Linked DNA regions of Homo sapiens. The protein of the gene in region 2 purifies or fractionates together with the protein of the main gene of each other region. This does not show direct contact. Each region holds a gene or a part of one and is shown on either strand. Other genes may lie near its edges. The genes, in order: LBR and CDC123.

What was found.
Region 1: the proteins of CDC123 (region 2) and LBR purify together in Homo sapiens (affinity purification with mass spectrometry; 2 studies listed by BioGRID and IntAct, with this or other methods). This does not show direct contact.

Annotation. Positions count from the first base shown.
Region 1 is NC_000001.11:225,410,915-225,418,219, forward strand, and holds part of LBR (delta(14)-sterol reductase LBR), read right to left. Parts: intron 7,267-7,305; coding exon 7,070-7,266; intron 4,419-7,069; coding exon 4,364-4,418; intron 1,732-4,363; coding exon 1,540-1,731; intron 527-1,539; coding exon 423-526; intron 1-422. UniProt on the Homo sapiens protein: Catalyzes the reduction of the C14-unsaturated bond of lanosterol, as part of the metabolic pathway leading to cholesterol biosynthesis.
Region 2 is NC_000010.11:12,233,883-12,241,187, reverse strand, and holds part of CDC123 (translation initiation factor eIF2 assembly protein), read right to left. Parts: intron 6,141-7,305; coding exon 6,065-6,140; intron 4,045-6,064; coding exon 3,922-4,044; intron 2,732-3,921; coding exon 2,703-2,731; intron 1-2,702. UniProt on the Homo sapiens protein: ATP-dependent protein-folding chaperone for the eIF2 complex. Binds to the gamma subunit of the eIF2 complex which allows the subunit to assemble with the alpha and beta subunits.

The DNA.
Region 1 (7,305 bases), on a different chromosome or scaffold from region 2:
CTTCATCACTACACTACGGTTTCCTCCAAGGTTAATGTTGTGAGAAACAGAATGAAGGGTGGAAGGGAACTCTTTGCTCTCTATCTGCAACTCCAAGCCTAAAACTAGGTAAAATTTAAAAAGGAGGAAAATGCATTTTTTCTTACATTAATTCATCCACACTATCACTTTCCTACATAAATATAAACTGATATAATAAAAATAAAGCAAAGAAAAGTTATTTAATTTGTCATAACCTGTAACAGGGCATCTTAAACCTCTGGAAAATACTTACAAGAAAGTATTTTGATAGATTTATGGAAAGCCATAATTATCCCTAAAAATATACCACCCACTGCTTATTTTTGAATGGTCTACATTTCTTTCTAGCAGTTAATTAGACCTATTGAATTGAAATTTAGAAGAAAAAAAACCAGACATACCCATCCAATCAATCCGGGGCGCAATTCACAAAAGTATTTGAGATCAAAAGTACCAATTCGAGGGTTTAATTCACGGCCAATGAAGAAATCATAGACAGCATTTCCTGAGAAAGGAAAAGTGTTTACCCAAACAGCATTCCAAACCCAGTCAGGAGGCTTTACAACGGCACTGCCGCCCACTATCCAGGCTCACAATTCCACTGCCTGCAAGACCCTGAGCAGGGCTCTGGTGGTGAGAGGCAGACAGGACGGCACAGACGAGCGGAACCAGGAGATGCCTGCCCGACTGAAAAGGCAGTTGCTCCAGCCTTTGGGGGAGCCGGGGGCCCAGGTTTCTTAAAAAAGTTAACCAAAATCATGGGGGCCCCCCCAAAGGACTTTACACTCCATTTTTTTTAGATAGGCGACATTTTTTTATATTGAAATACTTCAGGTCAGCATCAACCAATTTGTAACCTCTCGTTTCTCTTGTTTTTTGTTTGTTTTGTTTTGAGATGGAGCCTCGCTCTGTGGCCCAGGCTACAGTGCAGTGGCACAGTCTCGGCTCACTGCAACCTCCGCCTCCCACGCTCAAGCGATTCTCTTGCCTCAGCCTCCCGAGTAGATGGGATTATAGGTGTGCACCACCACGCCCAGCTGATTTTTGTATTTTTAGTAGAGATGGGGTTTCACCATATTGGCCAGGCTGGTCTCAAACTCCTGACCTCAGGTGATCCACCCGCCTTGGCCTCCCGAAGTGCTGGGATTACAGGCATGAGCCACCTCACCCGGCCAGTAACCTCTGTTGTTTTTTGTTTTTTAAAGAGTGTTTACTATTTTGGACAAAGAAATAATATTTGTCATAAGTCAAAATGCCTGTAAGTTTACTAAACGTCTTACTGTCATCAAGCAACTGCAAAAAAAAGAAATGAGTAAGAAAGTATGAAGGTAAAACAAAAATATTTTCTTCCTTTAAATTCATATCTCTTTAACGTTTTTCTTCATCTTTTCATTTTTTCTTACTTCTCTTCATTTCCCAAAAATGAAGTTAGAAAAAAAGCAATCTATTCAAATCTGGAAATGGCTGCTGGAGGGCTCTGGGACGCATTCATCCAACATGCAATTCATCACTGCTCACCAGAGCTGGCAGGCGACAGGTCATTCCGGGGCGCTTTCAAAGAGCGCATGTAGAGATACACACTCAAGACCACACAAAAAACAGTGGCCGCAAGTGCAAACTGAAGAAAATGACTGTACACGTAATGAAACTCTACGCCCTGGAAGAGAGATGTTCCGATGACTGCAGATGTCAGGATAAAAGCATAGAATCCTTTAAAAAAAAAAAAAAAAGGAAGTGGAAAATTAATATTAACCCAAGGCTCACATGAAACTTACGCCACTATGAAACAATGCAATGTTCATTTTTAAAGTCTTAATTTCATTATTCAGACTAAATACACACAAATATGCAAATAAGCAATGTCTGAGGTATAATTTTCAATATACATACCATTATCTCTTGTAGAACTTTCCAAATAGTTTAACATATTGATTCTTTTTCAGTTCAAATGGTCATTATTTGCTTTTAATTAAGGGAAAACAGACAAGAAGTGCAACCTGAAAATTCCCACAATCCAAACTCTCAGGCACAAAGTCAAATGGCTAATTATTAACAGAGCTGGGCCAAACACATATTTTAAAGTCTAATGCCATTACCTAAGGGGAGGGTATTATGCACCTACCAGGGGTCAGGCACCGAGCCAGGTTGGTAGTTACAAAATTATAAATATTTATACTTAACCAAGTTGCCAATAATGGTTTCAAAAGATTCTAGTAAAACTCTATCATCCAGAACAGAGATCTTAACATGCCACCCGCAGAAAAGATGCCACAACACAAATGCCCGAGGCTAGGCAGGGGACTGCGAGTACCTGGGGGGTAGGGACAGCAGGCGGGGACATTCACGTGCAATGCCAAGTTAAAAAGCACCCGCCCTGTGACGCTCCACAGAACTCTCGTTCCGGGCTAGTCCTGCAGCCACACAGAAAGGCTCACTGGAAGATCCAATTTTTTTCTTTTGGCTAAAGAAATAGTTTTGCTTTCAAAGGAGCTGAGTGCCTCAAAGAGCTGTGATCCTAAAAAGTCATCAAATCCATTTGGATAAACGGTCAAAAGCAAAAAAGAGGTAGCTGTTATTTATATGAGAATTCTAAAACCAAACCTTTTGTAAAGTAAAATAGTTGTCTCAAATTATCTGAATCCACATTTTCCACAAATACTCCAAACAATAACTTCTAAATTCTGACTTTTGAAAATATTCATTTACCTTTCATAAAATGTAATTTTAAAAAAGAATGGTTAGATAAAGCAGTCTTTTGCTCTCTAGCCTATGTGGATTAAAAATAATCATCCAAAATGTCTTAGGAACCTCCTTAGTTAATAATCGTAAAATCTCGAAAAGAAATCTCAATACTTGAACCAGAGTAATTAGATGAGGAAATTTTTAAAAAGGATCAAGCAACTTGGCCAGCCACTCCCCCACTGGCTCCAAGAGCTCCATGTCCAAGTGCTGTGCTCAGTCTCTGAATGTACCACACCCCTCAGAGGGAAGTGAAAATATAACACAAGACTACTTAGAAAAGAATTGGTACCTACAGAGAAACACACAAAACACTGAAATCAAAGGACCTGGCGGCAAAGTCAACAACCCACCTCACCCCAGACTCACCTTCCCTGGTGTGGTAAGTGAACCACCAGAGGGAGGGAGGGTGCCAAAGGTTCTAAAACTTGCTCCATCAGCAAAGAATTTGGTAAAAGCAACAAAAAGTCTAACAATACCAATGATAAGTATTAAGCACCCACCAGGGGTCAGACTCTGGAGCTGGGGGAGACGTTTTATCACATGACTGGCACTAAAAGGCAGAAGGTGTCTAAACTATCTTTGGCTTCCCCTTTAGAACCCAGTGGAGTGACTGCAGACAGAGTAGATGCTGCGTAAGTCTCTAAACAAAGTATCCAAAGTTAAAAAATGAAGAATTGAAAGGATAAAAAGTTCAACCATTACAATACATAATGTAATTCTCAAGAAAAGGAAAACACTCTACTCCGTCTTGTCAAATGGAAAATCATTCAAGGATGACTACAAAATAGATCTGTACTTTGCCAAAGTCTTCAAATGACAAAGCTGGACTGAAGCACTCAGCACATGCTCTTACAGTGCGAGATGCCGGACCCACAGGGAGCAAGGTCTATCCATTTATTGAGCTGCCCAGCAAGCTCACAACTCATCCATCCAGCACTCACATATGAATGAGCACCCACTACATGCCCATCTTCCTAGCACCAAGAGTGTCACAATGAACATAGCCAAGTCCTAGCCCATGAAGCCACATTCTAGTGGAGAGACCCTAATGAAGAGACAAATACACTGATGTGTGGAGGCACAAATGTCAGACAGAAAAACAAAACAGAGCAGGGGAGAGAAAGGGACCTGAAGGCTTCTCTCAGCAGAAGACAGATGGAGGTGAAGATGCAGGTGTCAGACGTTTGGGGGTAAGTTCTCCAGGCAAAGGCCCAGGAAGTGTGTGTGACGAATATTCAAGGGACAACCCAGAGGACATGAGCAAGGACAAGAGCAGCTCACGCAGCAGGAGTGGCCTGGATGCCCACATCCGTGTAACACCTCAGGTGATAAAATCCTAGACAAGTGCAATGATTTCTAACAGTGATGAGCACTATTAAGAAAATAAAACTGGAGAGTGGACAAGAGTGACTAAGAGGCTATGTTACTTTAATGGCATAATTTATACAAGTTGGCTACAGGTATAAACAGTTGCTCTTCCAACTACTAAGAAATAATTTATCACTTACTACTCTGGTCTAATCAGCTTTAACAAAGAGTTTAACACTTAGAAGTTTAAGCTATCAAATCATCAATTTGAGTCTTAAAAAAAGAAAATCACCATTTAATCTATACTTGAGTCTTCTTCCATCAATAAGAGGCGTTCCTTCTACAACCTTAAAAGAAAAAAAATTTACAAATTTACTAAGCACATCACCATCATATATACATATATACACACACACATATATATATTCTAGTATCACTTAATTTTCAACACGCCCAAGAAGGAAGATATCTTGTAACATGGAAATTTAGTAATATGTTTCAAAAACCCTAGTGGCAAGCCCTTTAATGACGCAATTCCACCTTCAGGAATTTATCTTAAATACAAATTCAGTAATGACTTCCTAGTGTAGGACCAAGCAACTGCAACAGCCACGCTCCCTGCCACACTCCTGTGTACCACCACCTCAAGACTAAATGTGCTTAAATACCTTTATATCTAGTGGATCCCTAGCTCAAACATCTACCAATGGCTACCATACTCTTACAAAGTAACAGTATGATTCCATTGTCTTCCATTTGTGGGGTCCTTTTCAATTGGGCTCTACCCTGTTTATCCACTCTACTATGACCCAAGTGCTATTTGATGACGCATACTCATATGCTTACTTGCTCTGCTATATATTATATATATATTGCCCATCCAGTTATTTAACCATTTCATGTGATTCTTTTATCTGCAATAAGAGACTGTGAGAAACCAGGTGTGGTGACTCATGCCTGTAATCCCAGCACTTTGAGAGGTCAAGGTGGGAGGATCACTTGAGTCCAGGAGTTGGAGACCAGCCTGGGCAACATGGTGAAATCCCCTCTCTACAAAAATACAAAATACAAAAACTAGCCAAGCCTGGTGGCACGCGCCTGTGGTCCCAGCTACTCGGGAGGCTGAAGTGGGAAGATGACTTCAGCCCAGGAGGAGGTTGCAGATTGCACCACTGCACTCCAGCCTGGGCAACAGAGCAAGACCCTGTCTCAAGAAAAAAAAAAAAAAAGAGAGAGAGAGAGAGAGACTGTGAGCACGCATCATGCATCAGAACCATCTCCTCTCTTCATTCGGCATCACTCACAGCATTCAGCACAGAGATACCCACAGGCATGGTACCCAATAGAACTGGCTCAGTAAAAAGTCCACTTGCTCAATGCAGCCACGTTTTACCCCACAAAATAACTATTCAGAAATGTAGCAATTCATTTCAAACTGTAAAATATAAATATAGTATCATTTGCTCTGGGCTAAACTACTTTATCTTATCATTAGCTACAGATTTCATTAGCTAGCATTCCTCCTCTCCCAAGAGAAACGTAAAAGCTGTTTGAGATCACAGGATTAGTAAAATGCCACATGCTAATTTCAGATGATCCTTATCTATTAAAGGAGTCTAGTAAATGCTGTGTTAGGCTTTAATCTGTGAATATATAGATCCAAATATACAGTCAGCCCTCCGTATCGACGGGATCCACATCCATGGATTCAACCAACCAGATCCAAAATATTTCGGAAAAAATTGCATCTGAGCTGAATATGTACAGACTTCTTTTTCTTGTCCTTATTCCCTAATACAGTATGATAACTATTTACATGGCACTTACGTTGTATTAGGTATTATAAGCAACCTAAAGGCAACAAAGTATACAAGGAAGATGCACACAGGTTATATGCAAATACTATACTATTTCTTATCAGGGCCTTCAGCATCCTCAGATTTTGGTATGTACAGGAGGTCCTGGAACCACTCCCCAAGGATATCAAGGGATGACTGCATAATATTAATATATATTTTAATATATATGCTTTTAGTCACTTTAGTCTATGAGTATATACATATATGACTTTAAACACCAAAACTGCTTTCCTTGATACTCTGAAATCACCTTACCCTAAATGAATCTGAATTTAACTGTAGAGGCTTACTGTAGAAATGACTGAAGGTCTTTATCACAAAAATCCTTGCTAGAGCCACTAAAGTTATGGTCTCACTCCACAGTATTAAGCCTGCAGCTCTACCCTCCTATCACTGGCATTCACCAGTAAAACCGATCCTTTGGTTTACAGACAGTTGGCAAACTTGCAAAGCCCTAAGAATAAGATCTTTAAATAAATTATTTATTACTTAGGGAATCTCATGTTTCTTTAAATATATCCAAGTAAAGGATTCTACTGAAAGAAGAAAAAACTACACTTAGCAATGGAGAGACAAATTTTAAAGATATTGCAGGAATCTGAAAACAACGTAAAATGTTCTTGACAACAAGCTTCTGAAAGAGATGAAAATTAGAAACTTTTCATACTTTTTTAAAGTAAAAGATGTAGACTAAAGTCCATCGAGCCCAGTAGCCTATCAATTAATCATTTAAAATGCTGCATCTGAAATGACACATACTAAGAGTGAATTTTTTTTCCATAGCAACCTCCACTGAGAGTCGGCTACTTTGCAAAATAGCCTATTCTTTTCTATTTGGTTTGAAAAGTTACACAAGAAATCTCAATCAGATTTTTTTTTAAGTTCCTCCTAATAAGCAAGTGTTATACAGACAGCACAAGAGAAATGGCTTCATGAACTAAGTTTTGGGAATTATGACCAACAACAGCCTTTAACCTTTAAACTACTCTAAGGCTGGGCAGCATGGCACAGGCCTGTGGTCCCAGCGACTCAGGAGGCTGCGGCAAGAGGATCACTTGATCCCAGAAATTGGAGACCCGCCTGGACAATATAGTGAGACCTCATCTTATTAAAACAAAACAGAATTACCATAAACGTACCTTTCCAATTGGCAGTAGGTAGAACAGGACTTGAATCAAAAACCACAGGAGGTAGACCCCAAATACTCTGGTTTCCCATAACTCATACAAAGCTGGCAAAGGAGGAGGGAAATTCAGAAGACTGGGATCTTTCTGTTTACACATCAACAGCAACAGGAAGAGGAACACAGGCAGGCCAAACATGATGAGAAACACACCTGCAAACAATTCATGAACATTCGAGGCTCAAATTTCAA
Region 2 (7,305 bases):
AAGATAAACTTCATCCTCACTTACTAAGAAAAATAGAAGTAGAAATTATACTGAAACATCATTTCTCTACGAAACCCCAAAAACCCTGAAGAGTGTAACCCTATATTGTAAAGGCAAGCTCTGAGGAAGCCTGCAGGTACTGTGATGCATTCCTGGGGGGATCTGGTCAGGTGTAACCTCTACCGAGGGTAAACTGCAACATTAAAATACATTTCACTTTTGAGCCAGCAATCCCGCTTCTAGGAATTCACCCTGTAGATTCACCTGCAGCGTGTGAAATGACACACGTACGGGATTATTCACCATGGCAGACTGCAGAAGACCAGACACAACCTGGTGTTCACTGCTAGGCATGACATGTATGATCATGGCTCACTGCAGCCTCAACCTCCCAGTCTCAAGCGATCCTCCCAACTCAGCTCCCGGGAGTAGCTGGGGCTACAGGCACAAACCACCACACCTGGCTAATTTTTATGTAGAGACGAGGTCTCATTATGTTAAGCCCAGGCTGATCTCAAACTCCTGGGCTCAAGCCATCCTCCCACCTCAGCCTCCCAAAATGCTGAAAATACAGGCGTGAGCCACAACAATGGCCTAAAGCCCCTCTTTCTAGTAACTCTTAACAGACACCATCATCTTTGAAGACAAAGAGGTGAAAATATAGTGATGTCTTTTGACGTAAGAGTTAAATGAACAGTTAACAGTTATTCTGGGACATGATCATATGGGCCATATCTTTTTGTCCAAAGATGATTCGAAGATGTCCAAAGGTGATTCAGATTCAAATGACTGTCTCACTTACAATGAGGCTGATCTAAGCACGGAGAGAGAATGAGAAATATTCTGCTTGTGTGTAGGTGACACGGGAAAACGCATCTGCTAGCTTCTTCACAATGTCAAAGAGCACTCAGCACCAAACAGCATTTAGTGACCTAAACTTCTTAATAAAGATGACATGTCTTGGACAGTGAAATCTCTGCTCTAGTAATTCTTCATTAAGTCAGCAGTAAGTAACTTTACTAGTAAGTCACTTTAACTTTTTCCTTACAGAAGTTTTCATCACTTTTAAGATTTAAAAAATAAACTAATCCTCTTCTGTCTAAAGATAAAAGTAACTCAAACTTTGAGTCACTTTTAGTTGACTAAAAATAATAATAATAATTTTTTTTTTTTTTTTTTTGAGACGGAGTCTCGCTCTGTAGCCCAGGCTGGAGTGCAGTGGCGCGATCTCGGCTCACTGCAAGCTCCGCCTCCCGGGTTCACGCCATTCTCCCGCCTCAGCCTCCAGAGTAGCTGGGACTACAAGTGCCCGCCAACACACCCGGCTAATTTTTTGTATTTTTAGTAGAGACAGGGTTTCACCGTTTTAGCCAGGATGGTCTCGATCTCCTGACCTCGTGATCTGCCCGTCTCGGCCTCCCAAAGTGCTGGGATTACAGGTGTGAGCCACCGCGCCCGGCCCCTTTTTTTTTTTTTTAAAAAACAGAGTTTCGCTCTTGTTGCCCAGGCTGGAATGCAATAGCACAATCTCAACTCACTGCAACCTCCACCTCCTGGTTCAAGTGATTCTCCTGTGCCTCAGCTTCCCACGTAGCTAGGTGGCATGCGCCACCATGCCCGGCTAATTTTGTATTTTTAGTAGAGACAGGGTTTCTCCATGTTGGTCAGGTGGGTTTCGAACTCCCGACCTCAGGTGATCTGCCCGCCTCAGCCTCCCAAAGTGCTGGGATTACGGGCGTGAGCCACTGCACCCGGCCAAAATAATTATATAAATATCAAGTGACAAACTCCTGGCCAAATTTAAGTGTGCAAACTGAACTATTTTAAGCAGGCCCTGACCTCTGACACAAATGAGACATAGGACGTAAGTGCTCATTTACCTACCTGTTCAATAAAGAATCCCTAAACCATGGTACACAATGATTTCAGCTATTAAGTCCTCTAATGTTAGGTATATTTTAAGGGGAGATTTTTGACCATGGTGAATTTCAATCACCTTAGTTGATGTGAGAAAAAAAAAAAAATTTGAGGAGGGGATGGGGTCTCACTCTGTCACCCTGGCTGGAGAGCAGTGGCGCAATCAAGGCTCACTGCAGCCTTGCATTCCCGGGCTCAAGTGATCCTCCCAGCTCAGCCTCTTGCATAACTGGGACTACAGGCAAACACCACCAGGCCCGGATATTTTTTTTTTCTCTTTTGAGGCAGAGTCTCGCTCTGTTGCCCAGGCTGCAGCACAATGGCGTGATCTCCGCTCACTGCAATCTCTGCCTCCTGAGTAGCTGGGATTTCAGGCACCCACCACCATGCCTGGCTCATTTTTTTGTATTTTTAGTAGAGACGGAGTTTCACCATGTTGCCGAGGCTGATCTTGAACTCCTGACCTCAAGTGATCCTCCCACCTCGGCCTCCCAAAGTGCTGGGGTTACAGGTGTGAGCCACTGTGCCTGGCCTGGGCTAATTTTTTTTTAATTTTTAGTAGAGATGAGGGCTCACTATGTTGCCCAGGCTAGTCTCGAACTCCTGAGCTCAAATGATCTCCCTGCCTAAGCCTCCCAAAGTGCTGGGAATACAGGCATGAGCTGCTGCACCCAGACAAAATATTTTTTGAGCATGGATCCTTCACACACATAACAAAGGCATGCTCTGCCTGCTTATAAAACCAGCTCTTATATTAAAGCATATCAGAAAGAGTTTTTACTTACCCTACTGTCTCTGTATATATCGAACACAACTGTAAAGGAGAAAAAAAGTCAGTTATTAATGAACTAATATTTCACAATGTAAATCTCCTTTTGAAAATTAAAGTACATTTTAATCAAAGACAGCAGAATATAAATGACCCTGAGGACTTCATGCTTCTAAACCTCAAAACTTCAAACATAAAAAGGCATCCTGCAATGTTTTATTTATATAACTTTGCTTTACTGTTCTCTGTTCCCCAACCATAAGCCCCTATATTTAAAAATTCAAACCAAACGCCAATATCATCTCAACCAGTTCCCCGTTATAGACTGGTTCTATGGGAAAGATGGGAGTCACTGAGCAAAGTACTAGTGAAACGGGCATCAATCACTGATCTGGTAGAATGCAATGAGTAAAGCTTATAATAGAAAGCATAAAATCTAATGAGCCTTGAAGCATGATTCATCTTATTTTAAGTCAAATCTGCCACAGAGCCCAGTCTTGGCAAGTAGAGAAATTGTAAATCATAGCAGATATAATTTTCAGATGTATGAAAACTCTTACACAATATACTTTCAATTCCTAAAAACAACCCACAAATGTTTACTTTGTAACTGGTGCTGTCTTTGATCATTCAAAGAAGCTAGAAAGGTAGATAGACTTTGTTCTCTGTAGATAGCCCCTTTGAAATACACAATCAAACATCTAAAACAAGACAGGGAACTGACTTAGCAGTAAAAATAGATTTTAGTTAAATAAGATGAAATTAACATGGCTGGTGCGGTGGCTCACATCTGTAATCCCAGCACACTGTGAGGCTGAAGTGGGCGGATCACTTAGGCCAGGAGTTCAAGACCAGCCTGGCCAACATGGCGAAACTCCATCTCTACTAAACATACAAAAAATTAGCCGGGTGTGGTGACGTGCACCTGTAGCCCCAGCTACTTGGGAGGCTGAGGCAGGAGAATCACCTGAACCCGGGAGGTGGAAGCTGCACGAGCCGCGATCGCACCACTGCACTCCAGCCTGGCTGACAGAGTAAGACTGTCTCCAAATAAAAATAATAATAATAAAAAGAAATTAACATACAAACTATCAAAAATAACAAATAATAATATAGTAAAATGCTTACAATACAGTATTTCAAATCTAGTTATTAGGATACACACCATAGTAAATAAGGTCCAGTAACAATGTATATTTCATTTCATTTTACTGGATCAATAAAAAAATACTCACAGTCTTCATCTAAGAATTTGTACTGTATGTGTTTCTTGAAAAAGTCTTGTATGCATCTGCGAATTTCTTCCTTTTGTTTAGAAATATGATCATAGTATTGTGTGTAGTCTCTTTGAGAAATACCTGACAAGAAAATATTTTACATCCTGTTATTATACAATATTCTTTTCAAAAACATCAATACGTGATTTAAACATTTTGTGGAAAGAACCATTAAAGTAGATTAGAAGATCACCCTGATGGGTACGGCATTACACACGACCCAGCTGTAAGGATTCATATGAACAGGTGAATCCTGAAGTCCTACATTGCCATGTCTTCTTACTTCTGGAAGAATTTACTTTTTGTTTTGTTTTGTTTTGTTTTGTTTTGTTTTGAGACGGAGTCTCACTCTATTGCCCAGGCTGGAGTGCAGTGGCACGATCTCGGCTCACTGCAACCTCTGCTGCCCGAGAAGCGATTCTCCTGCCTCAGCCTCCCAAGTAGCAAGGATTACGGGCGCCTGCCACCACACCCAGCAAATTTTTTTTTGTATTTTTAGCAGAGATGGGGTTTCACCATCTTGGCCAGGCTGGTCTTGAACTGATCTCATGATCCACCCACCTCAGCCTCCCAAAATGCTGGGATTACAGGTGTAAGCCACCGCACCTGGCCTTTTTTTTTTTTTAGAGACAGTGTCTCATTCTGTTGCCCAGGCTGGGGTACAGTGGCACAATCATAGCTTATTACAACCTCCACTTTCTGAGCTCAAGTGACCCTCCCACCTCAGTCTCCCGAGTAGCCGGGACTACAGGCATGTGCCACCATGCCTGGCTCATCGTTTTATTTTTTGTAGAGACGGGGTCTCAGTACATTGCGCAGGCTGGTCTTGAACTCCTGGCCTCAAGCAATCCTCCAGCCTTGGCCTCTCAAACTGTTGGGATTACAGGTGTGAGCCACAGCACCTTGCCCATGGAAACAGTTATTTTCATTTAGTAAAATGGAAGGAATTCAAAGTCACAAAAAGTCTTGTTATGTAAAAAATTAAAGCAGCAATTCTAAACCTGCACACATAATCAACTGCTGCTGCTTTGCTTTCTTCCAAAGAGTCTCTGCAAATTGGTATTCTCTTCCACTTTCTTTGGGAAAATATCAAATATTCTTCAAGAGATGCCTGCCATATTCATACTGTATTGCATAGAAGCAGTCTATTTTTCTTGTTCATACATGCTACTTGGCCTTCACAGCCTGCTCTCGTTCAAGCCATGGAAAAGTAAACATTCCTTTTTTCAGAGTGACTTGCTGACAAGATTCCAAACACACTAACTGGACTATTACACAAACTCCCTGAATTTGCTCCAGTCCTAGGGAAAAGTTCTCTGCTCTGAAATACGGGCTTCCTATTCCTGAATCTTGTGCCAACAGGACCCCCCGCTTTAGAGTACTTACACTGCAGCTTCTTCAAGAATATCGAGCAATATGAGAAATGTGAACACCCCAACTTTCTTTCAGGTGGGTTCATACATTTCAACATCACATTCAATGCATCAATAGTGCTGATGTGATTGTATTCAAATTACACTTTTCTAGGTTGAAGATAAATTTTACTTCATGGAAAATATGCATTAACAAAATAAAGAACAAATTATCTTCAATATTTAAGTTAAATCAATCATAGCAAACAGAACAGTAACCTGAGAGGAAAGAAAATGGGTGACTTAGAAGAATACACTTACTTGTCCACATATTTTCTCTTGCTAGAATAATAAACAGTGCCCCAATAATAGAAATAAAGGTTCCAAAACTTGGCTTTTTATGACGCTTGAAATAAGCAGACTATTGCTAAGTACTGCTTAGGAAAATTCCATACACAGAGTTCCTGATTCCTAAATCAGGAACAGTGACAACCACCATTTTTATCTCTGGAATCCAGACAGCCATGATTATCTGACAATACCGTTTCCTGCGGCAAGTGACTCTGGGCTCAGGATTCCTGTCAACACAGCATTCCAGAGAGTCAGTATCAACTGGTTAGAGGTGGCATCTGAGATGAAAACAGATTGACATCCCTGTCCTAATTACTGGAAATTTACTTCCAACAAAAGCTTGTTTTCTTTTAAAGATGACTTTGAAGGATAAAACAAACAAACAAACAAAAACTCACCAATAAGCTTGTTTTCCTTGACAAAACATCGAAACTCAGCCCCAGGAATCAATTCACACCATTTTCGGAGAACGAGCTGTAAACAAAAGAAAAAATATTTAATATAACACACCTATGTGGTAAGGTCTACTAGGCAATTTTAGGTCAACACTGTATCTTAATGATTGCCATTATCAAATGGTTTTAAAAAAAGAGGCATATGACATTCTTGGCCGGGCATGATGGCACATGCCTGTCAGCTACTCAGAAGGCTGAGGCAGGAGAATCACTTGAACCCGGGAGGTGGAGGTTGCAGAGAGCCAAGATCACGCCATTGCACTTCAGCCTGGGAAACAAGAGCAAAACTCCATCTCAAAAAAAAAAAAAAAAAAAATTCTTCACATGAGATGTAGGGAATAGAGTTGTGATCTATTATTCTGATAACCACAGGAAAATTGTGCTAAAATTCTATGACAAAATGCATCCTTGTCACATAACTGCCATTTTGAGAGTTCTGACATACAAGCACACCACCAAGAATGTAGTCACAACTTTTCACCACAGTGCCATACGTTCATTCATATGTTCTGCACCCCTTGAGGAATATCAAATAATAAAGTAATTCCAGCCAGGTGCGGAGGCTCACGCCTATAACCCCAGCACTTTCGGAGACTGAGGCGGGCGATCACCTGAGGTCAGGAGTTCAAGATCAGCCTGGCCAACATGGTAAAACCCCGTCTCTACTAAAAGTACAAAAAAATGAGCCAGGCATGGTGGCGGGTGCCTGTAATCCCAGCTACTCAGGAGGCAGAGGTTGTAGAGAGCCCAGATCGCGCCATTGCGCTCCAACATGTGAAACCTCCTCTACTAAAAACACAAAAAATTAGCCAGGTGTGGTGGCAGGCACCTGTAGCCCCAGCTACTAAGGAGGCTGAGGCAGGAGAATCGCTTGAACCCAGGAAGCGGAGGTTGCAGTGAGCCGAGATTGCGCCACACTGCACTCCAGCCTGGGCGACAGAGCAAAACTCCATCTAAAAAATAAAATAAAATAAAATATAGTAAAATAAAATAATATAATTCTAAAGTTGTCTACCTTAAGTACCATGAGGTAATGCTTACTTTGATATAATTATTATTGAGGTTTGTCACAATGAATCACCAAAATAACTCTCTCACTATTTTCTCAATATTTTAGTCGATCAATTCTACCCTTGGCCTAAATCACAAATGGGTCTTATTACTGTAATTAATAATTATTTAAT